Linked DNA regions of Homo sapiens. The protein of the gene in region 1 interacts with the protein of each later gene in a pairwise test. Each region holds a gene or a part of one and is shown in the gene's direction. Other genes may lie near its edges.

Region 1 (7,021 bases):
CCTGTAATCCCAGCACTTTGGGAGGCTGAGGCGGGCAGATCACTTGGGGTCAGGAGTTCGAGACCAGCTACTCGGGAGGCAGAGGCAGGAGAATCGCTTGAACCTGGGGTGCAGAGGTTGCAGTAAGCTGAGCTCGCACCACTGCACTCCAGCCTGAGTGACAGAGTGAAACTCAGTCTCAAAAAAAAAAAAAAAAAAAGAGTGGCAGTAGTGGTGGGGGAGACCCCCATCCCCCTTGCTGGGGTTTCCTAGGAAAGAAGGCTGGTGAGAGCTGTTGCTGGTGGTGGGCCCTGAGCCGCAGGGTCTGAGGGCCTACCCTGTGCTACCCCAGAGCTGCCTGAGAACTGGACAGACACGCGGGAGACGCTGCTGGAGGGGATGCTGTTCAGCCTCAAGTACCTGGGCATGACGCTAGTGGAGCAGCCCAAGGGTGAGGAGCTGTCGGCCGCCGCCATCAAGAGGATCGTGGCTACAGTGAGCACCCCAGTCAGGAAGGGTGGGGGAACCAGGGACCAAGGACCAGCTTCTTCCCAGGGTGCCCTCGTCCCAGCTTGTTACTCCAGTTGGGTGTGTCTGAGCCTGGCCCTGCCCTTCATTCTCCTTCCATCCAGCTTTTGGGCCTTGGCAGAGGGGAACCATTGGACTTGCAAGGTCACGGTTAGTGGCTTCCCTCCAGCCATTATGGCCTCTTCCAGCCTCCCCACCCCCAGCTCAGGCTCCCTACCAATGCATTGGTGACTTATCAGCACCAGGAAGGGTGGGGAGTTTGCTTTCCCTTGACTACCTGCCCAATGGCCTGAGAGACAGCATAGCCCATCAGAGAGCAGATTGCCCCCTCCCTAACTTTGAGCAAGGGTGGGCCTTTTAAATCCACTTCCCTTGGTGGCCTCAGACCCCTCAGCTCAATGGATGGAGCAGAGTACTCAGGAGTCATCCTGCTGGGTTGTGCTAGCTCATTCAGTGCCGAGTCTGCAGGCCCTTCTAGCTGTGTGTCCTTGGGTAAGTCCCTTAGCCTCTCTGAGTCCATCTCTGGGGAGAGGGAGGATGACTCCAGGTCCACGGTGCCTGACAGATAGCTGGTGCTCAGCAGATGCTGCTCCTGTTTCTATTGCAAGAAGGTGCTGGCTGAGTGGTCTTGCCCACACTGCTGCCAGTCACCTGAGCTGAGATGGGCCCCGTGCCTGGGGCTTAGGAACAGTGAAGTGTAAGCCATGAGGGTGGGTCTCAAGTGAGGCTGGCAGACTCCTCTGACTCCTGTCTGCTCCCAAGGCTAAGGCCAGTGGGAAGAAGCTGCAGAAGGTGACTCTGAAGGTGTCGCCACGGGGAATTATCCTGACAGACAACCTCACCAACCAGCTCATTGAGAACGTGTCCATATACAGGTACGCTCAGCATGGGGTTGGCCCATCCACTCTGCCACTTGGGGCAGTGGGTGGAGTATCCCATCTGAATCCAGGCTCTACCACTTCCTACCTGGGTGACATTGGAGCCTCAGTTTCCTCATCTGTAAAATGGGGGTGGGAACAGATCCTGCTGCACAGCGCTGTTAGGAAACGTGGAGTGCACGGCACCTGGCTCATGATGAGCATTTGGTTAAGTGGCAGCTGCTGCTGTCATCATCACCAGTTGCAGAAGACAGCTGAGCCCACCCGTGCCCTTCCCCCCTACTCCCCACCAGCATGCCGCTGAGTCGGGCTTGGAGCAGAGAACTGCAGAGTCACTGCCTTTTCCTTCTGCTGTGAATGCAGCAGCTCAGCTCTGGGTATCTGGCCAGACATTCCAGGGAGGCCTCAGCCAAGGTCTGAAGTCAGAGTATAGATGGTCTCTCTAGTGGGTCCTCTGGTCAGCCCTTAGAGCCTCAGACTATCCCCACCTCTCTCGGCTGGTCAGTTGTAGTTTTTCAGAACTGGAAGGGACAGCTCAGGTCCATTTTACAGATGGAGAAGCTGAGGCCCAGAGAGGGAATTGCCTAAGGCTGCACAGTGAGGTAGTAGCTAAACTGGAACTAGGATATCCGGGCCAGAGCCCTGTCCAGCAGGCTCCCGTCTGCCTGGCATCCCTCCACCCTCTTGCTTTGTCTCTAAGCAGATGGCTCAGCCCGTTGGTGCACAGGCCAGTAGTAGGGTCAGTAGATGTGTGTTGTGGGGGTCTGGCTGATGTCTTCCTCTCACCGGCCTGATCATACCTGCCTTCCTTTAGTCAACAGTTTCAGATACCTATTCTGCCAACGTCTGTGCCAGATGAGGACTCCAATCCTGCTCATTGCCCTCAAGGAGCTTCCACTCTAGTTGGGTATAGTCGGGAGGAAACAGGAGATAGAGCATAGTGTTCCAAAAAGGCAAGGAGGAGATCTGCCTGGGGAAATCCCGGAAGGCCTCCCAGGGGAGGCGGCACCTTGCTGGGGCTTGAAGAATAATAGGATCTAGTTTGTTGTTACCAAGGACCCAGTAACATTTAGAGCAGGAAGCTGGACCCCCTGGGATGGAGAAGAGGTAGGCAGGGACCTAACACCTTCACGCTCTGCCCACCGGGGTGTTGATGCCTGTGATTGAAGCTGGGGCCACATGGTTGAGGGGTGAGTCTATGGCGCTCCTGTCCCACCTCTGGGTTGAGGGGTGAGTCTGTGGTGCTCCTGCCCCACCTCTGGGCTACCGGCCCCTCCCCGATTGAGACTCTGAGGCTGACTGGAGGCAACGAGGAGGGACCAGACAAGTGAGGGAGGGTGGGAGGCCGAGGGCTCGGGTGGCCCCTAGGTTACAGGTGCGACTGGGGGCAGAGAGGGTGCTCCATGCAGAGGGAGTTGCTGTGTGTCTCCTCCCGGGCCCACTGGGGCTCCTTGTTGGGTCCTCGTCACACACGCACCCCACCCCTACTCCCAGCTCTTCACCCCTGGCCACAGCTCCAGAACTTGCAAGTGTCCCAGTCACCCTGAGAGAGATGGACCTGAATCTCACCAGACCTCTGGGCAGGGGCATGGATCGGAGGGCAGGTGGGGTGGGGGAGGCCAGGTGAAGGGCATTGGTGAGCAGGGGAGTGTCCTGCTTTCTGCTTCCCCTTCTGGCCAGTTGGCACACAGCCTTAAGAGGCAGCATGGCAGTCATGGCCTCTGGAGTCCTACAAGTGAGTTCAGGTCTGGGCTCAGGTCTTTAGCCTCAGTTTACTTCATCTGAAAAACATGGATAGTGATAGAACCCGTCTCAGAGGGTAGCTTTGAGAATCACATGAGGTGAGGTCTAGAAAGCTCTTGGCACATTGCCTGGTATGTGGTAAGGGTTCAGCTATTACTGTTTTGGGGTGTGGCTCAGTGTGGGATGGGAGGGAGAGGGGGAAGTGCCCTGCTTCCAGTCTTTACCCCATTCCTTCCTTCCTGCCTGGCCTGGGCCCCTCCTGCACAGATGGCCTAGGTACCCAGCCTGGAGGCCAAGGCTGGATTCCCAGAGTCTGCCCTGGTGGAGTGGGAATAGCAGGTTCTCTGCAACTCAGGGGAGCTGCCCTGCAGGGCTTCCCACATGTGCTCAGGCCCCTGTGCCAGGTCTGGTGATGCTTCCTCCTTGCCTTTCAGGATCTCCTATTGCACAGCAGACAAGATGCACGACAAGGTGTTTGCATACATCGCCCAGAGCCAGCACAACCAGAGCCTCGAGTGCCACGCCTTCCTCTGCACCAAGCGGAAGATGGTCAGCGGGGAGGGCTGGGGCGGGGACAGGGTCCAGTGGCCTTGGCAGCCTTGCTCTGGGTGGGGGGCTGTCTGGTGTGGGAGGCAGGACCCAAAGGTGACCATTACTTAAGAAGAGGGTGAAATCTCTGGGAACCCCAAGTGGGTGCCGAGAGCTAAGGGGTACAGTGGTGGGGCTGCAGGCAGGCAGGTGAACCGCCGGTCAGCTTTGTGTGGGCAGTAGCTGGCCCATGTCCCCAGTGTGTGTCTGGGCCTGTTCTCTCTGTAACGGGATTTGCTGGGTTGAGATTGTTTTGGATCTCCTGTCTTTAATATGGTCTAGGGATGCAGGGCCTTCTGGTGATTGGTCCTCGGAAATGGGAGATCAGGGGGGCCTAGGGTGGAAGGCAAAGGCGAGAGCCGTCAGAGAACCAGGCTTGCTGTGACTGGAGTGTGGAGGGCAATGGCTGTTTCTTGGTGCCTCCTGTGAGTTCATTCCAGCTGTGACCAGAGTGTGGAGGACAGTGACCGTCTCTCGGTGCCTCCTGTGTGTGCATTCTAGTGCTAGGCTTCCAGGTCTTCACTCGTTTAATTCTCACGGCTCTGCAAGGTGGCAACTGTTACTCTCTCCATTTTTTTTTCTTCTTTTTTTTAAAGTTTTAATGAGGAAACAGACTCCCAGAGGCCAGCTATCTTGCTGTCAGGGTTAGAGTGGGGGTTTAAACCCACGTTTCTTCCCCTCCCTGCGTGACTGGGGAGTTCAGAGCTCCTTGTCTCATTTCCAGGACACCCCCTGACCACATCTTAGCTGGGATGAGTGGGAACCTTGGTGGTCACGGGGGATTTGTCCTGAATTTGGGGGCAAGAAGTGGAGTGGGTCAACCTTTGGCATTGCAGCTTTTGTTTCTGAGACCCCCAGGATCTGAGCATTCTCCCTATAAGGTGCTTCCTGACATCCATTGATGTAGCATTGACACCTGTTAACCTCTGTTGACAGCTCTGAGCCCCAGTCCCCATGCCCTATAGCCCTTGGAACCTAGGAGACAAGATCCCCTTCCCTCCCCTGTCATCAAAGGACATGTCAGGTACATCACAGTCTTTGTGGTCCCCAGGCTTCCTGCTGCCCATCAGGACACACTTTAGATATTGTGTAAGTTGTAACAAATGATCGCAAATTTAGTGGCTTAAAACACAAATGTATTCTCTTATGGAGAAGAAAAATGTATTCTGTGACAGAAGTAGATCAGGAGTCTAAACTAGGTCGGCAGGATTGTGTTTTTTTCTGGAGGTTCTGGGGGGAATCCATTTCCTTACCTTTTCTACCTCCCAGAGACTGATCACCTGCATTTCCAGGTTTGTGGGCCTGTCCTCATCTTCCGAGCCAGCAATGTAGCATCTTCTGGTCTCCTGATTTCATCGTCACATTGCTGCTTTTAGCTCTGACTCTCCTACCCCGCTCAGCACTCCTTCTGATGACATTTGGACACTCTGAGTAATCTGGGATAATCTCCATCGCCACATCCTTAACTCACTTCTGTAAAGCCCGTTTGCTGTGTAAGGCAGCATTCACGGGTCTCAGGGATTAGGATGTGGACATCTTGGGGGCGGACACACGATTCAGCCCACCACAGGTGTCATGGAAGAGGCACTGTAGGAGGAGACAGTCTAGCGGTCTCCTGGCTGATTTGCTGTGTTACCTTGGAGAAGATCCTGCCTTTCTCTGGGCTGCTTGCCTATCAGCAGAATGAGAAGGTTGCCTCAGTGACCTCCAGGGTTGTTCTGAAAGGCCCCGGGTTCTTTTGAACACCTTGTTTCTTTCCTGCAGACTCAGTGTCACTGGCCACTTGCCTCGTGAGGTCCCAGGGCTCCAAGTTGCTGTGGCATCTCCTGTGAGTTCCCACAGATGTGACTCGTGGCTTTGTCTTTTAGGAGGCCACACAGACTTAAAAATACAGCTCCTTATGTCCCCATTGTTCATCTCTTCCTGCCCGCTGACCAGGGCAGGCCCTGGGCAGGGACAGCTGGCCCTGGGTGGGAGGGGCCTTCGACGGTGCAGAGGCTTCCTCTGGGATGAGGGGTCTGGGAGTAAGAGAGAGGTGCAGGCCCAGCTCTTACAAGGGAGACCTGGCCTGTGGTCAGAGAACTTCACACAGACTTGAGTGAAATCAGCCTACCCTCAGGCCATGAGGTCAGTTACGAGGAAAACAGAGCCAGGCCGCTGCTCAGCCACTGACTGCAGAGCCCTGACCAGGCAGCAGAAGGGCCCCTGCCAGACACCCAAACTCTTCATCTTTCTTAGTGTATTCTTCTCAGGTTGGGTTGATGGCTGGAGTGGTTTATCCATCTCCCTACCCTTTGCTACCTGGCCTCCCTGCTTCAGGGGCCCTGCGGAGCCCTCTCCAAGACAGCGCAGCCCAGCATGGTGTAAATACATCACCTGCTACCTCAAGGTCTTAGCCCAACCCAGGCTGACAGTGTGTTGGTGGCCTAGACATGTTGGAAATCCTAGATTCTTGGGCTAAGTGGAAGTGTTCTTGGGGGAGGCAGGAGATGGAATAGCTGCGTCAGCCTCCGCACCTGCTGGCAGCTCCGCCACAGAGGTTTGGCACCGTCTGTCCTGGCCTGAGCCATGGAGAAAACATCCAAGGCGGTAGAGAACAGCCCAGCATCAGTACCTGGAACCCAGGGGGGCTTAGTTCTGGGGTGGTAGTAAATCTCACTAACTTCCCTGAAGTTAGAGTCAGTGAGACTTCCCTGAGACAGACACCTTGAATGGGGCTTTGAAGGCTGAGGAGCCAGGAGGAGTTTGCCAGGCCGAGAGAAGGGGGTGGGGTGGTGGGTGGGGAGTGCACACCAGCATGGGATTAACACACGTGCAAACGCAGAGGGGCGAAGTGAAATGGTTCCCCTGGGGTGGGTGGTGAGGCAGCTTCCGTTTGCAGTGGGCCTTGAATCAGGATGTTGAGGGCCTTGAATCAGGATGTTGAGGGCCTTGAATCGGGATGTTGACAAAACGTCAGTCATTGTGGCTGGGGGCCTCCACATCCCTACTCTTCCTGGCTGGGCTGCCGGAATGAGTTCATGACCCATTGAGGTTGGGGGAGAAAGGCTCCTTTCTACATCACCCACCAGTCCGTTCAACTCTGGGGCAGCACAGCCACCCCAGGTCTCCCCTCCCTGGTGCTGCTGGGCACAGCCAGCATAGGGTTCCTCCAGGGAATCCCTTCCATCTGCCCAACCGGGAGGCCTCTGGGCTCCAAAGTGAAGGTGTCATGCAGGTGCTGGGCCTGGGCTGATGGTAAGCAAAGTGCTACCCCCATTTCCACCCAGGCAGCACGGGGCCAGGCTGCTCCCTCCCCCATGACC
Region 2 (7,021 bases), on another chromosome or scaffold:
GCAAGAGCAATTAAAAAACAGAAGGAAGACATCTTTTAAACACACAGTTACACAGTGCCCCCTGCACAAATGGAGAGCACAAACAAGACAATTGAATGGGTCCTCCTTTCTGTTCGGGTTGCTGCCTGGGAGCCAAGACCCACAGGGACATTTTGGCTGCTGACCTGGTAGGAACCTACCTCTGGGGGAGCACTGCCCTTGGAGCACTGGACTTCCTGGAGAGGGGAGGATGAGGTGATTGGTCATGGGCAGACTGGCCCCCGTGGGGAAGCCTTCATATTATAATGATGCTAATTCTCTTCTCCAAGCCTCGGTCTTCCCCGTCTTCTGGCCTGGTTGTTGTGGAGGGAGAGTTCTGAGGATCCATCCCATCAGTGTGTCTCTCCATTTGTCTGTCCATTCATCTAGCCATCCCCTCTCTTATTTTCACAAATGTTCTACAACGCCGACTCTCAGTCAAGGAGGCGCTGTACAGGAGTTTGAGTGACTCAAGTGAATTCAGGAATGTCCAAGAGAATTGATCAGTGGGGCAGGAGGAGAGAATGATGCTTAAGAGAGCTGTAACCTGGGTTCGCACACCAGCTCAAGTCACAGGGGGGCCTGAACCTCTTACGTCAACGCTAACCTTTAAGTTTCTAATCCACTTGAACTAAACCCCTCAAGTCAATGCTGATCTTTAAATTTCAAATCCAGTTGAACTAAAGTATGCCCCCAGACCTTGTGGGTCGGAGTGGTTGACAAATCAGTTACATAATGTGACTATGCCATTCAATATTTTCATACTGAGACACAGTGGCGAACAGGAAACATAAAGAACCTGCCATCTTGGTGCTTACCTTCTAGGCAAACTAGAACCACGCGGGTAAACACACTGGCAACTACACACCGGGATAAACGCTCAGAAAGTAAAAGCGAGGGGTGGAGTATAGTCACATTGAGTTTAATTGGTTTAAAAAGTCATAGCCGGCCAGGTGCTGTGGCTCATGCCTATAATCCCAGCGCTTTGGGAGGCCAAGGTAGGTGGATCACCTGAGGTCAGGAGTTTGAGACCAGCCTGATCAATATGGTGAAACCCCATCTCTACTAAAAATACAAAACTTAGCAAGGCATGATGGCGGGTGCCTGTAGTCCCAGCTACTTGGGAGGCTGAGACAGGAGAATCGCTTGAACCTGGGAGTCAGAAGTTGCAGTGAGCTAAGATCATGCCACTGCACTCTAGCCTGGGTGACAGAGCAAGATACCGTCTAAAAAAAAATGTCGCAGCCAGTCAAACTACATGCCTTGTCCCCACTGAATACCTGATCTGTCTCCACCCTTCCTGTCTCCATTGCCTTGGGCTCCCCTCCACTGACCAGTTCCTCACCCCCACCCCTCCCAGGCTCCTCAGGTGCTGCAGGCCCCAGAGATCTGCTCTCTTCTCTTTGCTCGGAAAGCTGCTGCAGCCTCTGGTATTTATTTTTTTTCCTCTGAAAAAACCCAGCAAGGAACGCTGGTTTTTTTCTGGGAAGGCAAGTCCAATCCTCACTTGTATCTAGTATCAGCATTAGCGTGTACCTAGAGGGCTGCTTTATGTACATATACATATCTATTTGCAAGTACATATGTGCAAAGAGAGACAAGTGGGGTTTCCTCTCATCTTATGAAAAATTCAGGATGTCCTTTCTAGCAGGCCCAGCCCCGCATTCCCACTCCCATTCCCATATTGGCACGGGAACGTTTCTTGCCAAGTGAGTTGACTGATGGTGAGAGAAGGTGGGTTGGCGTTATCCTGGCAAAATGCTCTGGGGCTCATAGGGCCATGAGGCTGGCACTCATTCAGGTACAATGTGTGGAGTTGGGTGAATGAGAACAGGAGAAGGGATCAGGGATTTTGCATGGCAGGAGAACTATTTGGGCCCAAAGACCAGGACTTTACAGAGACGTGGAGGGTGGCTTTGGGGTCTGGGAAGGGAGGCAGTTGAGTAGAGCTAGGGATGTCCTATGTTCTGGTACCTGTAAACCAGGTGCTTCTCCCCAGCTTTCCCCTCTATCTCTAAATAAACATGTCTTCCTAGTCATTTATTATACCCCATGGGCTGGTGTCTTGAGGAGGCGCAGTGGGATGTGGTGGGGTGAGTCACCTCCTTGCTCACACTCGGTTGCTCTCCACCAGGCAGGTTTGGGGAGGGAGATTTGGGGTCCAGGGTGTTTTCCCTAGTATAGACAATAGATCCTGAGGCTCCTCATCCCTTCTGCCTTAGAAGTAGAACCGTCTCAGGCCTCTTGCCCAGAGAGCACTGAGGGTGACAATGGGCAGCTGCATGGGGAGCAGAGAGTGGTATGGACTTAAGGAGTAAACCATACAAATCCTCTGCCTGTTACCTGGAGGTAGTGGTGGGAGGTGGAGAGGCAGAACCTAGAATGATGAGTGAAGGCTGGATCCATAGGAGAAGAATGAAAGGCAAGACTGTTAATGGAAAGGGATTCCAATCCAGACCCCAAGAGAGGGTTCTTGGATCTCGTGCAAGAAAGAATTCAAGGTGAATCCATAAAATGAGGGCAAGTTTATTAGCAAAGTAAAAGAATAAAAGAATGGTTACTCCATAGGCAGAGCAGCGCTTGGGCTGCTGGATTAAGGATACCCGTATCTTGAGCCGACCTCTTATCTCATCCTGTGACTTAGAATGCCTAGCTTCCCGGGAATGCAGCCCAGTAGGTCTCAGCCTTATTTTACCCAGCCCCTATTCAAGATGGAGCCACTCTGGTTCAAACATCTCTGATGAGACCAAATCTGGTCCATTTGATTCAGAGCATCAAGTACAAGATTAAACATAAGAAAGGGCCTCTCCTCTCGGAAAGTCAGCCTGTTGGGGAGGCTGCCTTAACTAACAGGTGGAAGGGCCCTGAAGGCCGGTCAGGGACCATTCCGGGTGGGCTGGAACATCAGAATCCTGAGGGTGTCATCCAGCAAGTCTAGATTCTTGTTATTCTAAAACAGGAATGCAAGGGTTGGGTCAGAGGGAGGGGTAAAAACCCAGAAAGAGATTTCTTTTGGAGGCACTTTTAGAAAAAGGATACTTTCAAGGTGAATAAGAAACTGAAATGCATACTGGCCCTCCTTCCTTCTCTCAGGTGCCCTCCAGAAAAAAGGCGTGGGGCAAAGCAATGTTTTCTAGGTGACCTTGAATAACAGCTGGACCCCCTGACCTTCGTGAGAGAGCGCTGAGGGTTACCATTTACTGAGTGTCTAACAGTGGGCCAAGCCTGGGCTGAAGGCCGCGCGAATCACCTCCGTTAACCCTAGCTCCCCACTGCAGTGGGGCTCCCAGATGCTAAGGAACTTTCCAGGCTTATCCACTCAGTTGTATGTGGCAGGACGAGGGTTTGAGCTGCAGTCCATGTGGCTATTGATTCAGCTTATGTTCTCTAGTGCTGGGCAGGGAGGAGCTGACCCCCATGGGTTTGTTATGTGTGCTGGTTAGGGCCCTGCATGCCAGTCAAGCTCCTGTCCTACAGCCTGCCTGTGGGAGGATCTCAGTGTGAGGTCTGGAGCCCTGGACGAGGCCACCTGGGCTCACTCTCTTCATACTGGAGCAGGGAAAGGGCAGAGAGAGCTGCAGACCGGAAGGTGGATGGTCTGGGGTCGGAGTCCGGCCCCTGTCACCAGCTGTGAGTCATTAAGCCAGACTCAGGCTAAGGCTTCCTCATCTGTTAAACAGCGACACGCAGGGGACTGCTCATCTTTCAGGTGCGAGGTTGGGGGAGTGGTGGGTGGGGACAGGCATGGTTAACTGCATGTGGAAGGGGCTGTTGTTCTTGGGTATCTGGAAGTCACACGTGGTTATAAACTGGGAGCATGTGTGTGTTTGTTAATAGTCTTGCTCCCCAAAATATTCTAATATAGCTCACAAGCACGCACGTAAGCCTTCAAGATAGAAATCTGTGAGTGAAGAAAATGAGGCAAAGGGAAAATAAGAAAAGACAGCTGCTGGGTGCAGCGGCTCACACCTATAATCCCACCACTTTGGGAGGCCAAGGTGGGCAGATCACTTGAGGTCAGGAGTTCGAGACTAGCCTGGCTAACATGGTGAAACCCCATCTCTACTAGAAATACAAAAAAAAAAAAAAATTAGCAGAGCATGGTGGTAGACGCCTATAATTCTAGCTACTCGGGAGGCTGAGGCAGGAGAATCGCTTGAACCCAGGAGGCAGAGGTTGCAGTGAGCCAAGACTGTGCCGCTACACTCCAACCCGGGTGACAGAGCGAGACTCTGTCTCAAAAAAAAAAAAAAAAGACAGCTGCCAGGGGAGTGCTTACGACATGCCATAAGGACCTGTGTACTTGACCCTGCACTTCCACTTTGTGGAGAGCCAGCACCATGAGACAAACAAGTTACAAGCTTCACAGTGTGCTTTGGATCAAAACAAGCCAGCTATTCTGAGGAAGCAGGGCTGCTCTGAGAGCCGTGTAAGCGGTGGGCTGCATGCAGGGGATGGAAATGCATGCTTCTAGAAAACACCCTGCGAGGTTCCTGGGCTCATCTGATAAGGGCCCACCCAGAGTGTTAGTGCAGGCTGTGCACACAGCAGCTCTGGGCAGATGTGAGGCAGTTCCAGGCAGACATGGCTGCCACATCCCAGCCTCTTCCTCCCTAGAAGGCAGAGATCTCCTCCCCATGCAGCAGGCAGTCTGCTGGGTGGTAGGCAGCAGGGCTGAAGCATCCTCCCTTCATGAGGGCTTGGGCTGAGTTAAGCAGAGAGCCCCTTGCTGCTTCCACCTGGGCCAAATTCCAAGCTGCCAACAGCTTACAAGGACAAAGAAGCAGGCTGTGAGCCAGCCTGGTGAACAGGGTAAGGCCCCAAGGATAGGAGCCTTGGAAAGTGGAAGTAAGGCAGGCTGTGGCCTTCATGTCGTGGGTGCCTGCTTCTTCCATGAGTCTGTTGCATTCTCCTCACCTCGTCTGTGTCTGTTTGGCTCCCACATGCTTTGGTTTACATGTCCTTTGTGGCTTGCAGCTGCTTCCTTGATACCTAGAGGCATTTCCGCCTTCAGTTCCTGCTGCCAACCACCTCGGTCTCCACACTCTCCAATCCAAATGCCCAAGAGAAGGATCTGATTTGGCCAGTTTGTTCTTTTCAGCTAAGCCACATGGGCTACCTTCAGCCAACAGATGGGTGTCTTTGGGGCAGGTGCTGCCCTGGTGCAAGTTTAGAGATTGTGGGATCAGATGGAATATGTGGTACACTCCTTACTCCCAGCAGGGCTGTGGAGGGCAGTGCTAAGGAGCAGCAGGCATAGATGGGGAAGACACTCCAAACACATCTAACACACTACACACGTGCCTCCAGAGGCTGACAGCCCTTCCCTAACCTGCACTTGCTTTGGGCATTTCCAGGGTAGATATGGATTCCCAGTTTCTCCAGCGGCCAGTGCTCCCCCTAGTCCACACAGTGAGACCGTGAAAGCAGATGCTCCGGGGCACTCCTGGGCAGCTTTTGCTCAGTGGATGATGGGTGACTACAGACTCCCTGACCACCCCCAGCCCATGGAAATTCTCAACCTGTACTTGGGAGACAGCCTGGAGCCCCACCCAGGAGAGTGCCCAAGGGAAACGTGCAGCCATGAGGATCCACCGGAGCCTTTCGAGGAGCAAACCTGGGCCACTGACCCTCCTGAACCTACCAGACAAAATGTTCCTCCCTGGGGCTCCGGTGTGGAGCTCACACACCTGGGGAGCTGGGTCCATCAGGACGGGCTGGAGCCTTGCCAGGAGCAAACCCGGGCCACTGACCCTCCTGAATCTACCAGACAAGATGCTCCTCCCTGGGGCTCCGGTGTGGAGCTCACACACCTGGGGAGCCCCTCTGCCCAGAGGGAGCACAGGCAGAACACAGCATCACCAGGGTCACCAGTGAACAGCCATCTACCGGGGAGCCCAAAGCAGAACCGGAGCACGTCCACACAGGTAGTGTTCTGGGCAGGCATCCTGCAGGCCCAGATGTGTGTCCTAGACCTGGAGGAGGAGCTGGAGAAGACGGAAGGGCTCAAGGCTGGGCTGAAATGCTGTCTCCCCACGCCCCCTGTGGACCTCCCCGGGGACACGGGCCTGCACTCCAGCCCACCTGAGAATGAAGACTCAGGGGAAGACAGCAGTGAGCCTGAGGGAGAGGGCCAGGCATGGCTGAGAGAGGGAACCCCAGACTCTTCCCCACAGTGGGGAGCTGAGGAGGAGAGCATGTTCTTCAGCAACCCCCTCTTCCTGGCGAGTCCTTGCTCAGAGAACAGTGCTTCTGGAGAGTGCTTTTCCTGGGGGGCTTCAGACTCCCATGCAGGTGTGAGGACTGGACCTGAGAGCCCAGCGACTCTGGAGCCTCCCCTCCCAGAAGACACAGTGCTGTGGGAGCTGGAAAGTGAGCCAGATTTGGGGGACGGCGCTGCTATCAGTGGGCATTGTACCCCTCCATTCCCTGTGCCCATCTATAAACCACACTCCATCTGCTGGGCCTCAGTGGCTGCCGCTGAGGGGGCTCCTGCAGCACCTCCTGGTCACGGGGAGAGTGAGGTAAGCCCAGTCTTGGGAACCAACCGGGGCTGTGCTGGGAACACAGAAGGGAGGGTCTTCCTCGGGGGTCACCAGGCCCAGAACATTCTTTTCTGACGCTAAGAGCTTTGGGGATAACCTGCATCAGTATATAGCAGGGTAATAGAGCAGAAAATCAGGACCAGTGTTGTCTTCAGAATGATAGGACATTTTATCAATGCCATGATGTCAGCTGATGTCAGCTGATAATTAAGTCCATAAATGTCTCCATCTCACCAGCTCCAAGGGGCCATGCCTAGATACGTTTGGAGAACAAACAGCTCCTCCAATTGCAGCATGTTCCAGGCCATTCTCAGATTCTTCCCCTCCCATCTCCAAGACATTCCCAACTGTAACAGGGCAGCGCTCAGCCTGCAAGGGTGACCTTTGCCCCTAACAGAGAGATGCCTATTTCAAAAGTCCAGTCCTCTCTCTTCTTGACAGATTTCAGCATGTTGTTA
Region 3 (7,564 bases), on another chromosome or scaffold:
TCAAGGTCCTCCACGAACTCTGTGCTTGGGCCCAGTGTTAGCCTTGCAGAAGCGCCCAGAAGAGCCAGCAGGCCCCAGAAGCCAGGCACTTTCAGGCTGGGGCTTGGGTACACAGCACCCTAACCTTCCCTGGGCTCCTGAAGCCCCAGATGCCAAACCCCTCTCCAAACAAGGGAAAGGCCAACTCTACACTCTGGAGCAACTGTCCCAGCTCGGTGGGGCTAGCTGGCTCCGGGAGGTCCCAGCTGGTCAGGCTGTGAGCTTCTGCTCCTCCCCACCAAAGCCCCAAAGTGACCTTAGCGATCAAAATGGTCAAGGCTCTCCTCCCCAGCCACCTCCATTTCACCGCCCCCTTCCCCCCACCCAGCTTCTGTGTATGTTTAGCCCCCAGCTTGGCCCTCTGAGGGCTGCATTCAGGGGCTAAAATGAAGGTCATTGTAAGTGAGGGTTTGGGTGAGCACAGCATTTGCAGGCCAAAGAGGCAGCACTGCCAAGTGGCCTGAGCTGGGTGGAAGGTGGGGGCGGTGGCAGAGATCTTGGGGGATCCCAATGAAAGAGGGGACGCGAAGAAAAAGCATAGGGGGGCTGGGAGGGAAAGCCAAGGAAGGCCCAGATCCGGCAGAAGGTGCTGCGCACCCCTGCCACTGTGGCCAGCTGGGTACCTAGGGCTCTTTGAAAACAGGAAGAGCCGAGGTGTCATAAAGCCATCTAGCGGGCCAGACGTCTGGAGGTAATGAGTTTACGACAGGCCCAGTGCTTTGCTTTGAAACCATCTCATTTTGATGTTTGTGTTTGTGGGAGAAAAGGAAAAATGCAGACAAAACTGGGTCTTAAAATCTAGACAATAAAATATAAACAAGACTGCGTTGGACCAAGAAGGCAGGGGCATGGGAGCCCCCAGGTGAGGTGTGAGCACCTAGGAAGTAAACATGAAAGAGGTAGGAAGGAAGAGGTGAATGAATTTCTGATTTTTGAAATGAACCAGGTAATGGAAGTAGCCTAAGGAGATGGCATTTTACAATATTTTGACTATGACCACGGTTTAGCTGGTTCTTTAGAAACAAACAAACAAAAAAATTGGCCTGTTATCTGGGGATAGGGTGGTTAGTGATCTTAGGTCATTTACCCAGGTGAGAGTCTCCCAGAAGTGTGGTTCGCGGGAAAAGATGAAGTTAGATGCCTATTCACAAGAATCTCTGGCCCTCCACTCCAAACTTTGAAGCAAAATGTTGTTGAAATTTATGTCTATTCACTTATAAAAAAATACAATTGTTACACCTAAACTGGAGGAAAGCAGTTTTGAAGATGAGTAAAAAGATTAACCTAACAGGAAACACTTAAGCCAATTGAATAGTCATTGCTTTTAAAAAAAATTCTAGTGGAATGCTTAGTTCAATGACTTTTGATATATATTTTTAAAATCCCATTTATTGTCCATAGAAATTCCAACAAACAGAAGCGCAAAGGGACTTTCCAGACAGCCACTCAGAGATCCAGCAAAAAGCTTTTGATTTGGCTTCGATTCCCCCCAAAATCGGCCACCTAAGTGGGCCCCAAAGCATTAAAGTTACAGTGTTAAAGTAGCAAATATTCATGATTTAATCCTAAAAGTAACAGCTGTAAGAGAAAAACAAAAACATAACAATACTTGATTTCTGTAATTTCTTGGTTGCCAAAGTGTCTGGTTCCTCTGGAAAATAAAAAGCCTCTTGGCAGTTGATATTTAGAAAGTTGTAGGTTTTGTTAAATCTAGCCTGTCCTATAATTGTTTTAAAAGGCACAGCTGGGCGGTTACAGCATGGGGACTTTTGGTGTCTGGCAAAAGAAGGGCTGGAAGCTTTTGGAAAAGACACTACTGGAAGCTGTTGGGAGCACTGATTAGAATATCCTAGGCATACAGGAGCTCCTGCTTGCTGCTCTTGACTTGTTGACAGTCACAGGAATGAAGCATTATTAGTGTCAGCAGTCCAAGCCCCAAATTGAAGAACGAGATTAGAATTGGTTTGAGATGAATAAAAATTAAATTCAGTGGACTGGAGGTGGCATTTGGCCACTAGAGAGCGCTGTTGCTCCACTTTCTGATCTCGTAAAGCTGGAATTGCGGCGGAGAAAGGTTTTGATTAAAAATATTAACAATCTTATTTTTAATCCGAAATTAGGATAATTTTAACCAAAAATAAACAAGGTGTACTATTAATTTCTGTGTTTGCTGGGCATAAAATTTTGGCTCGATCATGGCTTCAGAAACTTTGGACTGTGGCACAGCTGAAACTATAAAACATGATAAATTAATGTATTATATCAAAACAGAAAGCTGTAAAAAGCATAGATCTTTTCTTACTAAGTTAATCGCGCTCTTTTTCTACTCATATTATAAACGGAATGCTTAAATAAATGTTAAAAACTGTTTTGTCCCAAGAGGAAATGTTGTAACGTTTTCTAAATTTGGCCTGAATGTCTATAAATGAATTTTCTAGTGTTCATTTTTCTTTTATTCCCCCGAGGAATCACACAGTTCTACAAGATGCCTGGTATTGTTGAGATCCAGGCTCTTTCATTTTCCCCCCCCCCATTCCATTCCAAAATCCACTCATTTATCCAGGGTTCAAACACACACACACACACACACACACACACACACACACGCCAAACTGAAAAAAAGGGGCACAATTACAAAGGTAGCTCCAAGGCTTTATTGACAATAATAATCTTTTAATTGGGCATTTGCAAGATTGAAGGACAAATCCTTAATTGTCAGAATCAATTCGTTCGCCTTCGGATTTAAAGAAAGTCATTATACTTGGCAATAACCAGCAGAAAAAAAACCCCACAAAAACAAACAGCAACAACAACAAAAAAACCCTTGCTCTCCACCACCCCAAGTCTGCACTCCTTACTAATTTAAAAATTAAATAAAGCATGCCTCTGTCATCTCCAGATTCATTAACGATTCCTTTACCTTTCAGTCATTCCCAGTAGAAATAATTGAGTCGGACATTATCACCTTGCTATGTCTGTCCATCTCGATCTCATTTTCTCCATTTGTAAAAATGATATTTCAGTCCACCCGGACACAAGTCAGGATCGCGCTCGCAGGCTGGGCCAACCCACAAGGAGCTAGGGGTAGCTGAAATCGCTCGCCAGCCTGCAGCATCTCTGAGGCCGTCTGGGGTTTTCGGAAATTTGCATTTGGTGTGGAAAGCCGGCGTGGTGCGTTTAGCTTGAGCAGGGGCGCCTTGGAGGTCTATTTCCAAGGCTGTGGGCCTGGCGCCCTCACGACATTGTACCTATCCCGAAGGAAACGGGGCTCAGTCACCCAAAGAGCCCACGAGAAAGGCCGAGCAGGAGAGGGGAAAACACACACACACAACAGAGAACCATTGCATTTATTGGACATTGAAACGGGAGCAGAGAGGGAAAGGAAGTGTGTGGGGAGGCGGTTGGTAGGGTAAAGCCAGACAGCTTTGGAGAGAGCTGCTAAAATCGGGAATATTTTGTCGATTCACACTCGACTGGGCCACATGACTCGGGCAACTTTTCTTCATCTCTGCTCACAAACTAGGCTGAGCCTTCTCTTTCTCTGCTTTGGGAAAAATTCGTAACTTTGAGGCCTGCGCGCTCTCTCGGCAGTAATTTCACAGGCTTGGCGGAGGAAGTAGGATCGTTAGCATAAGATGGGCCGCCTGCAGCTGCCTGGAACCGGCGCGATCTGAACGCCGGCTGGGAGGCTCCTGGGGGGAACTTGCGGTCGTCTGCCCTCCGCACTCCTCCGGGAACCGCAGCCGGCCCTGGTTCGCTGCGCGCCGGGGCTGAGACCCGGGAGCCGCGTCCTGCCCGAGGAAATGTCACCCTCCCCAGCGCGAGCCCTTTTTCCCGCCTCAGAACGTTTCTGTCCGCTCTTCTATTTACTCTCTCAGCAAGCCTAATGCCCCCTCCTGCATTCTTCAGCCTCCCCCTGCGCCCAGGGCTGACGTCTATCAAGGGTGAAATGATGGAAACTATATTCATGGGCATGATTTCCATTAAATATCAATTAACCTGAGAGCCTCGGCCAGGCTTGCGGTGCGTCAAGGGTAAATGTACATCTCATTTCCACAGGGCCCGCTCGGCTGGAAAAGAAAGGCTTTGATTTGCTTTGATAACGCCAGGATCTGGGGCCACACTCGCGGCTTTTAATTAAACCACTTCGATATGCCCCAACTCAAATGCACGGTCCGGTCCGTCAACACCTCTTGTCCACGTTCCCTGGGCTGCACCCGCGTGTCCAGAGCTGCAAAAGCCACGGGCAACCTCTGCTTTTGCAGCCAGGGGCTCGGGGAGGCAGTCATTTGCTCCGCAGCCTCCTGGGAGTGGCCTCCTTGGCTCCCCCAAGTCTAAGGCTCCGCCGCGGCCCCTCCCTGCCGGCTGCGATCCGCATTCCCGCGGCCCCGGGGCACACGGAGCCCTTGGCAGTGCGTCTTTATGGGCCCCCTTTAAGGCCGGCGGAGGCATCTCGGGCCGGGCGCGGCGCTCCGTCCGTCGGCCGTAGCGACTGAACTGCGCGCGGATCCCTCCGCGGGGCTCCTCGTCCCCGTCACGCTGACTTTCCGTGCAGTGCTGTGGTGCGAAAATGCCTCGCCGGTGCGCACCGGGTCGGCAGCCTCGGCGGCGGGGGCGAGATTGGCGGGAGGGGGGCGCGGGGGGGGCGCGGTAAGAGGTGGCGGCGGGCAGAGGGTGTTTTTTTTCTTTTCCCTCCAGAGCCGGGGTTTGTAAACCGAGGCCAGAGTGTCCCCGTGGGCCGAGCGCACTTTTTTCTTGTCCGGGTGCGCTCAGTCACTGGTGCCTGAGAGGAAACAGTGGAGGCAGCGGGGCAGGTCGCCTGGGGCGTCGGCGATTATATTGCGGCCGAGCCGGGGCGCGCCGGGAAAGGCCGGGAGGGCGGCGGCGCGCGGGGGCTGGGCGAGGCCCCGCGACCCGCGAGGGAGGCGGCGCGAAGCCGAGGCGGCGGGCGCAAGAGCCGGGCATGAGCGCCCAGTAGCTGAGCGCCCGCGGCTGCCTGGCCTCAGAAGCGACGCGCGAGCGCGGGCGGGCGGCAGCAGCGACGTAGCCCGGCGGTCCCGGCGGCGAGAGCAGCCGCCCCACAGGCCCCCGCGGCAGTGCGGCCGAGTCGAGGCTCGCTCTCTGGCTGCTTAGCGCCGCCCGCCCGCCCGGGGCCGCCGCCGCTGACGCCCCAATGAGTTCGTACTTCGTGAACCCGCTGTACTCCAAGTACAAGGCGGCGGCTGCGGCGGCGGCGGCGGCGGGCGAGGCCATCAATCCCACTTACTACGACTGTCACTTCGCGCCCGAGGTCGGCGGCCGTCACGCCGCCGCCGCAGCAGCCCTGCAGCTCTATGGCAACAGCGCCGCCGGCTTCCCGCACGCGCCCCCGCAGGCGCACGCGCACCCGCACCCGTCCCCGCCGCCCTCCGGGACTGGGTGCGGCGGTAGGGAAGGCCGGGGCCAGGAGTACTTCCACCCCGGCGGGGGCAGCCCGGCCGCTGCCTACCAGGCCGCCCCCCCTCCTCCTCCGCATCCTCCGCCTCCGCCGCCACCTCCCCCCTGCGGCGGGATTGCCTGTCACGGGGAGCCCGCGAAGTTTTACGGATACGATAACTTACAGAGACAGCCGATTTTTACGACCCAGCAAGAGGCCGAGCTGGTACAATATCCTGACTGTAAATCGTCCAGTGGTAATATTGGCGAGGACCCAGACCACTTAAATCAGAGCTCGTCTCCTTCTCAAATGTTTCCGTGGATGAGACCACAAGGTTGGGATGCATTTTTTTTTTAAGAAGGGAGAGGGGGAGAAATCTGCTTTCATCTCACGTTCTGGCTTTAAAACTCCCGTTCCCTCTCCCCCTCCTTTTCCTTCTTGTGTAGCCACAGTGGCTCTTATTCATAAAGTAATACAGACTTTTTTTAAAAAAGTAGGAACCATGTAAAGATGATGGGGACAGAATAATTGTGAAGACCTCTCTGCTCCTCTTGCCTGCACACCCTATATATATATATCGGAGCTAAAGAGCTCTGTGTATATTTCACCCCGTAGACCCCCGTTCCACAAACCTCCAGCAACATGCAGAGGTACCATAACATTTTTAAAACTTTTATTCCCCCCCCCTTTTTTTTTGTTTTAATCAGCAGCTCCTGGTAGACGAAGAGGAAGACAAACCTACAGTCGCTTCCAAACTCTAGAGTTGGAAAAGGAATTTCTTTTTAACCCCTATCTGACCAGGAAAAGAAGAATCGAGGTTTCCCACGCCCTAGCCCTCACCGAGAGACAGGTAAAAATCTGGTTCCAGAACAGGAGAATGAAATGGAAAAAGGAAAACAACAAGGACAAATTTCCCGTTTCCCGGCAGGAGGTGAAGGACGGGGAAACGAAAAAGGAAGCCCAAGAGCTGGAGGAAGACAGAGCCGAAGGCCTGACAAATTAACTTCTACCTTTAAAATTTACCACAGACTATTAAAACTAATAATCACCATATGCTGTGGACACCACCTATTTTCTTTGTTGGAAAGGACCTTACCTGTGTTTCAAGCTACCTTCATGTCACTGCTCTTGAGGTTTTCTGTGCTTTGAGAGGGATTTGGGTGTTTAAAAAAGTTTCTAGTATCACATAGAAGCTGTCCTTGAGCTGTCCTATGGAAGGGTAATTTGATACTGACCTTGTAGCTATATTTTTATAATGGTTTTTAATGTCTGAGCTAGTGATTTGCCTCAACAACGTAAACTTCCTAATGATTAGCACTTAATAATTGCATATAAAATGCTTTATTAATTAAACAAGTGCACTTGAACATTTTAATATTTGTGGTGAGTAAATTAAAAGGAGTTTATTAATTAAAAAAAATTATGTCTGCAGAATACTTTATATTATTTGATTACAATGTATTATTTATGGATTTTTTATTCTTTCCTTTATAATGAATAGTTCGGGTGCGTTTTGTTTACTCCTAAAAGGTTTCTTTGCGTATTTTCTAAATGTAATATCTCGGGGAAAATATTAGAAAAGCACGTATTAGCTGAAGAATGTAACTTGTAGTCCAGCTCTGCAGCTTCCTTAAACTTAAGAAAAAGATTGGGCCAGTGACAAGAATTTAAAGACAATGTCCAAGTTGACAATTATTTTTCTATAGTCCATACAAATTAAATAATCTGGCAACTCTGGCAAATCGCCTTGTAAAATGCGTCTCATTTTTTAACTTGCTTTCGTTTTGAACCGCCCTTGTAATCGCCTGAAATCGCTAGTTCTTTATGCGGTGGCTGCCGCTGTGTTCCGTTATTTTCAGTAGGTGTCATATTTATTTGTATTGCCTTTGTTCTGTTCGCCGCTGGTTTTAAACCAGCTTGCTGTGTGCATCTCAGACGTCGGTTGGTACGTCCTCCGCTGTTCTTCAGGAAAGCGATAGCCTCACCTATTTGAAACAAGCCCTGAGAGGAAACGCAGAAAAACCTGAGTGTAAACAACTCCGGAATGTCGCTAGCTCCTTAGTAAATAAATGAATCTCTTTCTGGAGCTAGTGTCTTTGAGCGCCGCAA
Region 4 (7,505 bases), on another chromosome or scaffold:
TTGCAATGCATAGGTGAGGAGAAGCAGAGAGCTTGTCATATGCAAGTCCTGTCAAGAAAACAGGTGGGCATGGTGGCTCAGGTCTGTAGTCTTTGGGTCTTTGGGAGGCCAGGGTGGGAGGATCACTTGAGCTCAGGAGTTTGAGACCAGCCTAGACAACATACTACGACCCTGTCTATACAAAAAAAAACTTCTCTAAATTAGCCGGATGTGGTGGTGCATGCCTGTAGTCCCAGCTACTCGGGAGGCTGAGTGAGGCAGGAGGATCACTTGAGACCAGGAGGTTGTGGCTGTAGTGAGTGATGATCATGCCACTGCACTTCAGCCTGGACCACAGAGCAAGACCCTGTGTAAAAAAATAAAATAAAAAACAGATTGGATGTCTTTCTTCTGATGTATTAGCTATTTTCATATGTTTTCTAACATACTTAATATCCTTACAGGCATTATGTGGATTCAGGGTAAACTTCTCAGACTGTGAGCCTGAGAGTTCCTCTCTAGGAGGCTCCACACCATTCTGCCTGCTAGATCGGGGCCAGATGAGATGAAAGTCAACGCTTGAGAAAGAAAACCAACATGCATTAACTGAAACACCGTCTTCACTTGTTCATCCACAGGGTATAGAGCGAGTTCCAAGAACCAGGCTAGGAAATGACACGCTAAGTTTCCTATTTCTAGCAGCTGCCAAGGCCACCAGCAAGCATGGGAACCTCTGGGAGTCACAGCTCCTCCGTCTCCAGAGGCCTGGCAGTGGCCAAGTCTAGAAGGACGCGGGTGCCACCTGGTACAGGGTGAGGGTGTGAATAACAGACCCCGAAGGGTTGCCACCTCGAGCCCCGTGCCTTGTCCAGGAATACACAGGCTCTTTTGATGTCAGGTAACTTTGCCATATGATCTTTGTGGTGTACCTGGTAGGTCACACCCTGTGAGTGTGTAGATGCCTCCTCCCGTGCTGGCTGCTTAATTTCTTCTGCACTCATAATCCTGACCATCTTGAAGATCATCACTGAAATACTCCTGTGTAATGTGTGGCTACAAAGTGCTATCTAAAGATGCTCTCTCAAACTCAGCTCATGAAGATGAGAGGAACATCACAGGGAACTGTGTGGCTTCTTAGCAGGCATCAGGGCAGATACTTAGAAATTAAAGTTGAATTTTAGAAACTTACATTTTATATTTTAATGCCCATCTTACATTTTAAGGTATTTTAGTGAGAAAAAGTTGCATCCCAAATAGTATTTCTGAATCTGAAAGGAAGTCAACTCCTCTGTTACTAGAAGTTCGTTCTTCTTTTTTTTTAGACAGAGCCATTCTGTCACCCAGGCTGGAGTGCAGTGGCACAATCTGCTCACTGCAGCCTCAACCTCCCAGGCTCAAGTGATCCTCCCACCTCAGCCTCCCAAGTAGCTGGGACTGCAGGCATGCACCACCACGCCTGGCTGATTTTTTTTTTTTTTTGGTAGAGTCTGGGTTTCACTATGTTGCCCGGGCTGGTCTCAAGCTTCTGGATTCAAGCGATCCTCCCTCCTTGGCCTCCCAAAGTGCTGGGATTACTGGTGTAAGCCACTATGCCCAGCTGTAAGCAGTTCTAATTCAGCACCAACTTTCAGGAGAAGACCAGTTGTATGATTCCATAAGTGTCAAGAATTATCCAGCACCTTGTTAAAATTTCATTTTAACCAACTTAAAGTAACAAATCTGTGCAATCATGGTAGTGATAATTAATCAATTGAGTTGATGGCCAAGTCTGTTGGCCTCTCCCTGTGGTAGCATTGTTCCTACTGTAGTGTGCTACCTCAGGAATTCAAAGGGCTCAAGTTTCTCAAAGGTATAAAGCAGAAGCTTTAAACATCCCCCAAAATGCAAGCTTGCTCTAACTTGTTCACCAGGAAGAATTATAGATTACATCTGTTTGCCCAGCCTTATCATTTTCACTTTATGGAACCTCACAACTCTCCGTAACCTTTATCGCACGTTATTTGCTGGAGATGGCGCCATGCTCCTTTCATGGATTAGCTGACATTCCTAATAGGCTGGATATTTTAGGCTGTTTTGCAGGCTTAGAAACAGAGATTTGGGGCCAGGCACGGTGGCTCATGCCTGTAATCCCAACACTGGGAGGCTGAGGTGGGTGGATCACCTGAGGTCAGGAGTTTGAGACCGGCCTGACCAGTATGGTGAAACCCCCATCTCTACTAAAAATTACAAAAATTAGCCAGGCGTGGTAGCACATGCCTGTAGTCCCAGCTACTCGGGAGGCTGAGGCAGGAGAATGGCTTGAACACGGGGGGCGGAAGTAACAGTGAGCTGAGATGGTGCCACTGCACTCCAGCCTGGGCCACAGACTGAGACTCCATCTCAGGAAAAAAAAAAAAAGAAAAGAAAAGAAATGGAGATTTGGCAAAATTAAGTCACTTGGGATCCCAGGAAATTGGAATCTGAGGCTGAATGAAACCTCTTAGTGGGATGGTTGAACATGTATACGGCAAATTATGTTGCAAGTGGAAAATGTGAAAAACACAATAGAGCCTGGCATGGTGGCTCACACCTGTCATCTAAGCACTTTGGGAGGCCAAGGGGGAGGATCGCTTGAGGCCAGGAGTTCAAGACCAGCCAGAGTAACAGTGAGACCTCTGTCTCTACAAAAATGTTTTTAAAATTGGCCAAGCAGTGGTGGCTTACACCTGTAGACCCAACTACTTAGGAGGCTGAGGTGGGATCACTTGAGCCTAAGAGTTCAAGTGAGCCCTGATCATGCCAGTGCCTCCAGCCTGAGCAACAGGGTGAGACCCTGCCTCTAAAAACTGAACAACAAAAAAAATCAGTAGGGTGTCAGCTACGGGAGTTACTGTTTCGGTGCAATCAGATTAGGATGAGAGGATCTGAACTGATGAGCATTGCAGTAGGTGAAAGACGGTAAGTGGCCATTTCTATTAGCATTAAATAGTCACTGATGTGGTTTCATCAGGATTCACAATACATGTGTGGCTCCCAAATTGAGTTTCAAAGTCTTGGGTTCATGGTGTCCCCTGCCCAGCAAAATAAAGTGCAAATCTTACGGAGCAACACATTTTAAGTTCAGGCCTCAAGTACTTCCAGAGACAAAAGTCCTGGGGACACTGGCTCAGAATGGGGGAAAGGGGACCCTGGGCCAAGAGTCAACCAGGATGACATGCAGAATCAGACCTGCAAGGGCTGCAGATACTGTAGTTATGAGGCACACCCAACGCTTAAAGATAAATATGTGGTTGGAAGTATAAGAGCCTATTAAAACTGCTAGAATATAAGAAATCAAATAGGACAAAAACAGAATCATTGGCAGGGTGCAGTGGCTCACGCCTGTAATCCCAGCACTTTGGGACGCCGAGGGAGGCGGGTGGATCACTTGAGGTCAGCAGTTCAAGACCAGCCTGGCCAACATGGTGAAACCCCGTCTCTACTAAAAATACAAAAAAATGAGCCGGGCGTTAATAGCGCGTGTCTGTAGTCCCAGCTACTCAGGAGGCTGAGGCAGGAGAATCGCTTGGACCCAGGAGGCGAAGGTTGCAGTGAGCCGAGATCGCGCCATCACACTCCAGCCTGGGCGACAAGAGCGAAACACCGTCTCAAAAAAAAAAAAATCGGTGCAATTAATAACCCAGTGGATGGGTTAAACAGATTGCACGTAGCTGAAAAGTAACCGAAAATCTGGACTGGCGCGGTGGCTCACGCCTGTCATCCCAGCACTCTGGGAGGTCGAGGCGGGCGGATCACTTGAGATCAGAAATTTGAGACCAGCCTGGCCAACATGGCGAAACCCCGTCTCTACTAAAAATACAAAATTAGCTGGTCTGTAATCCCAGCTACTCCGGAGGCTGAGGGAGAAGAATCACTTGAACCCAGAAGGCGGAGCTTGCAGTGAGCCAGGATCGCGCCACCGCACTCCAGCCTGGGCGACAGAGCAAGACTCCATCTCAAAAAAAAAAAAAAAAAAGAAAATCTGAAGCAGTCAGTGCAGTAGGGAGAAGTGGGCGAAAGGAAGGAGGCCACGCTGCTGGGTTTCAGGATGAGATGGGCGTTGAGGGTGCATTCACAGAATCCCGGGAGGAGCCAGCTGAGCGGGGAAGGCATCAGGAGAGGGGAGGCACTGAGCGGGGCGCGGTGCTGTAGGGAACGGAGGCTCATCAGGGCGGCCGGGATTGAGGCGCAGGCGCTGAGCCTTCACCTAAGTCCGCCGAAGTGTGCAGAGCCTGGAGACGGGATCGAGGTCACCGGAAGCCCACGGTTGCGGGGACATGATCAAGCTACAGCGCGCTGGGGGAAGCGACCACTGCCGCCCCGCGGATCCCACCGGCCTGGCCGGGAGCTCCCTCTGCCCGGCTCACCCGCGCTTCCGGCCCGAAGCCCGGCTTCCTCTGACGTCACGGCCCCTGCGCCCCCTGGCGGCGCGGCTGCGGCGGGACGCGCGGGCACCGCCCCCTCCGGCTGGAGGGCGGGACTTCCGGTGAGTGAGTGACGGGCGCAGCCTCGGCAGCGGCGGCGGCGGAGCCCTGAGGCGACAGCAGCTGCGGGAGGCGACGGGCTGCGGCCTGCGGAACCTGAGGCAGCTGGGGAGGGCCGGGCGCGCCGGCCGGATAGCGAGCCGCGCTGGCGGCGGCGGTGGCCGCGATGATGGAGATCCAGATGGACGAGGGCGGCGGCGTGGTGGTGTACCAGGACGACTACTGCTCCGGCTCGGTGATGTCGGAGCGGGTGTCGGGCCTGGCGGGCTCCATCTACCGCGAGTTCGAGCGCCTCATCCACTGCTACGACGAGGAGGTGGTCAAGGAGCTCATGCCGCTGGTGGTGAACGTGCTGGAGAACCTAGACTCGGTGCTCAGCGAGAACCAGGAGCACGAGGTGGAGCTGGAGCTGCTGCGCGAGGACAACGAGCAGCTGCTCACCCAGTACGAGCGTGAGAAGGCGCTGCGCAGGCAGGCGGAGGAGGTGCGTGGGCCGCGGGACCCGCCCGCATCCCCGTCCCGGACCCCCAGCCAGCCCCGGGCCCCGGACCCAACACCCGTCCCGACCCCAGACCCCGCTCCGGCACCCCGGACCGCGGGACCCCTGGACCCCCAGACCCCGCCCCGAGACCCGCCTGGACCCCATATCCCCCGCCCCGGGACTTCCCCACCCCCTCTGCCCGCCGTGAGACACCTCCCTAGAGCACTCCCCCGCCTGCCCCGGGACCCCACCCCGACTCCCGGGGACCCCCTTTTCCGCCCAGGCCTGGGCCCTGGCCCCCTCCTCCGTGCCCCCAGCCCTGAATCTTCAGCCCCAAACCCGATGTGCCTGGCGTCATCCCCGGGGAGCTCAGCTTCAAAGCCAGGCCTCACTCTCCCCTCCCCACCCACCTCTGCATGACAATTGCCTTTGCTTTCGTGCGTGTGTTCAGTCAAAACCGTTTCCCGACCCCAAGTGCTACCTCTGTTGGCTGCCATTCTAAACCCATCTAGAAAAGGAATCTTTTGGTGTTCTTAGGGGGCTGCAGCCGTCTGTGGATGATGTTGGAGACCTTTCCCTTGTCCCTAATCCCGTATTTTGAAGGTCTGTGACACGGGTGAATTGGGTGGTTGATGTAAACACAGAACAAGGCCGCAGGCGGGCTGCTCCTCTGTCAGCAGAAGGAACACTCGAGTTTCTGGAGGTGATGTCTTTGCCCCCTTGGTTCCTTGCTTGGCGAGATTGTTAGCTGATGTAGCCAGGGCTGAGAAACTCCACTCTGGCTTCTGAGGAGTTAACAGTCTGAGTTTGAAGCGTTTAATTCTGTGCTAGGATGTCTCCATAACCTGGAAATCGCTTGTCTGTGAAGCAGTTACAAGAGCCGGGCCCTGTGGGGAGCACCACTTAGCTTCATTCATTCACCGTCAGATACTGAGCTCGGCCTGCCTGTGTGTGGGCCCAGAACCTCGCCCTTTGTCAGAAACAGGTTCAGGGAGGCTGGTTCCCATCCCTGCTTTGCCTCTGTGACCTTGGCCTGTCGCCTGCCTGGGGTTCGATTTTCCATCAAAGGAGTGAATTGCACTAGGCGATCTCCAAGCCCAGAAATTCTCTCATTCTAGGAGTTAGGTAATGCTGTTTGACTTATGAATAGAAGTGTCTTAGGAAATGAGCTTCAATTCCTTTTCAATTAATTCGGCTTAACACATTCTTGACTTTAATAGGAAAATAAAAGATTGTGTCAGTATTTTGGCTTTTTCTGAAACCAAGGTGATTTATGGCCTAGTTTGGTTTAAAGCGTGTTTATAAAAATCATAACAGTATGTTGTATCATTCCTCCTTTCCTGTGGTTTCTATTGCGTTTGGGCTTCGTGTCTGTCGCGAGGTGGTTATGCATTGATTGGAATGCCCCGGTTCCAGCAAAGCTGAGTTAAAGCTCTCAACCTAAGGGAACGCAAAGGTTCATGGATTTTGGAGCTCAGGGTGACTATAGGCATTTTACTGGGAAGGAAACTTGTCCTGAGAAGTGGAGGGGCTGAACCAAGGTCACCCACCCCAGAAGTGCCCAGCCAGGATGCAGAGTGAACCCGACACCGGCCTGGGCACTTGCTTCCATGTCAGGCAGCTGCAGGCACCGGAGGGCTGCTCCCCAGAAGCCTGGAGTGCCAGGGCTGCCCTCGCTCAGCTGTGGAGCTGTGGCTGCCCCCTGTGCTGGGCACCGCCCTCCACTGCTCTCCCACACTCAGTGGCCTGACCTGGATTTCAGGTGGGTTTCTTTTTTTCACCTTGTACCTGTGTGGTCAGTATAGTGGACGAGAAGGAACTGAAAGGAGAAAATCAAGATGGACAACGTTAAGGCTAGGAATTATAACCTTGCCGCTTAAAAATGAGCTGTGCACAGGATAGGCGCTGCCCAGCTCTGTGCGGTTCACATGCAAGCTGCTGTGAGTGCATCTGCCCTCCCCCAGGGCTCCTGCTGAACCAAGCTGGCGGGTGTGCGTGTGGTTTGCAAAGCTATCACCTTTAGTCTGAGACCCACCATTGCCCCAGCGCTTTAGAGAAGCTGCACCGAGAGCTTCGGGAGCCGAGCCCCGAAGCCAGCCAATGCTTGGCCAGCATGGAGGCTATGATTAAACGCTAACGGGGCGCCCTTGGAAAGACCTCAGGGCTTTACAACTAAGGAAGAGGGCTCGATGCTGTCAACATTTGGCATGCCTACTCCTCTACTGAATCAAGCAGACCTTCATTTCCAACTTTGTAGACCATTGTGCCCTGTGGGTCGGCGTCTTTTCTAGGCAGGGACTTGTGATCACATAGACGTGTGTCTGATAAGAGGGGAGCGGGACGTCACACGCTGCAGGCGTGTCTTGTTGCAGAGGAGCTCCTGGGTGAGCTGTCAGCAGAAGCTCCGTCCCCAGCCACTCTGCTCAAGAAGGCTTAGTCAGAGATGGGTAACCTGAGCCACTGCAGCTTCTGAGCAGACAGAATCCGCAGGGTTTTATAAAAACCTGAGCAGAGCAGACATCCCTGTTCCCATCTTCTTGCCG

Evidence for each region.
Region 2: the proteins of LDLRAP1 (region 1) and PSD4 interact in binary tests that used the Homo sapiens proteins (3 or more experiments, as listed by UniProt).
Region 3: the proteins of LDLRAP1 (region 1) and HOXD8 interact in binary tests that used the Homo sapiens proteins (3 or more experiments, as listed by UniProt).
Region 4: the proteins of LDLRAP1 (region 1) and MAPK8IP3 interact in binary tests that used the Homo sapiens proteins (3 or more experiments, as listed by UniProt).

What each region holds. Positions count from the first base shown.
Region 1 is NC_000001.11:25,553,591-25,560,611, forward strand, and holds part of LDLRAP1 (low density lipoprotein receptor adapter protein 1), read left to right. Parts: intron 1-331; coding exon 332-474; intron 475-1,269; coding exon 1,270-1,382; intron 1,383-3,562; coding exon 3,563-3,677; intron 3,678-7,021. UniProt on the Homo sapiens protein: Adapter protein (clathrin-associated sorting protein (CLASP)) required for efficient endocytosis of the LDL receptor (LDLR) in polarized cells such as hepatocytes and lymphocytes, but not in non-polarized cells (fibroblasts).
Region 2 is NC_000002.12:113,176,971-113,183,991, forward strand, and holds part of PSD4 (PH and SEC7 domain-containing protein 4), read left to right. Parts: intron 1-5,375; 5' UTR 5,376-5,486; coding exon 5,487-6,542; intron 6,543-7,021. UniProt on the Homo sapiens protein: Guanine nucleotide exchange factor for ARF6 and ARL14/ARF7. Through ARL14 activation, controls the movement of MHC class II-containing vesicles along the actin cytoskeleton in dendritic cells. Involved in membrane recycling.
Region 3 is NC_000002.12:176,125,155-176,132,718, forward strand, and holds HOXD8 (homeobox protein Hox-D8), read left to right. Parts: upstream 1-4,550; 5' UTR 4,551-5,212; coding exon 5,213-5,789; intron 5,790-6,162; coding exon 6,163-6,458; 3' UTR 6,459-7,541; downstream 7,542-7,564. UniProt on the Homo sapiens protein: Sequence-specific transcription factor which is part of a developmental regulatory system that provides cells with specific positional identities on the anterior-posterior axis.
Region 4 is NC_000016.10:1,701,693-1,709,197, forward strand, and holds the start of MAPK8IP3 (C-Jun-amino-terminal kinase-interacting protein 3), read left to right. Parts: upstream 1-4,502; 5' UTR 4,503-4,647; coding exon 4,648-4,965; intron 4,966-7,505.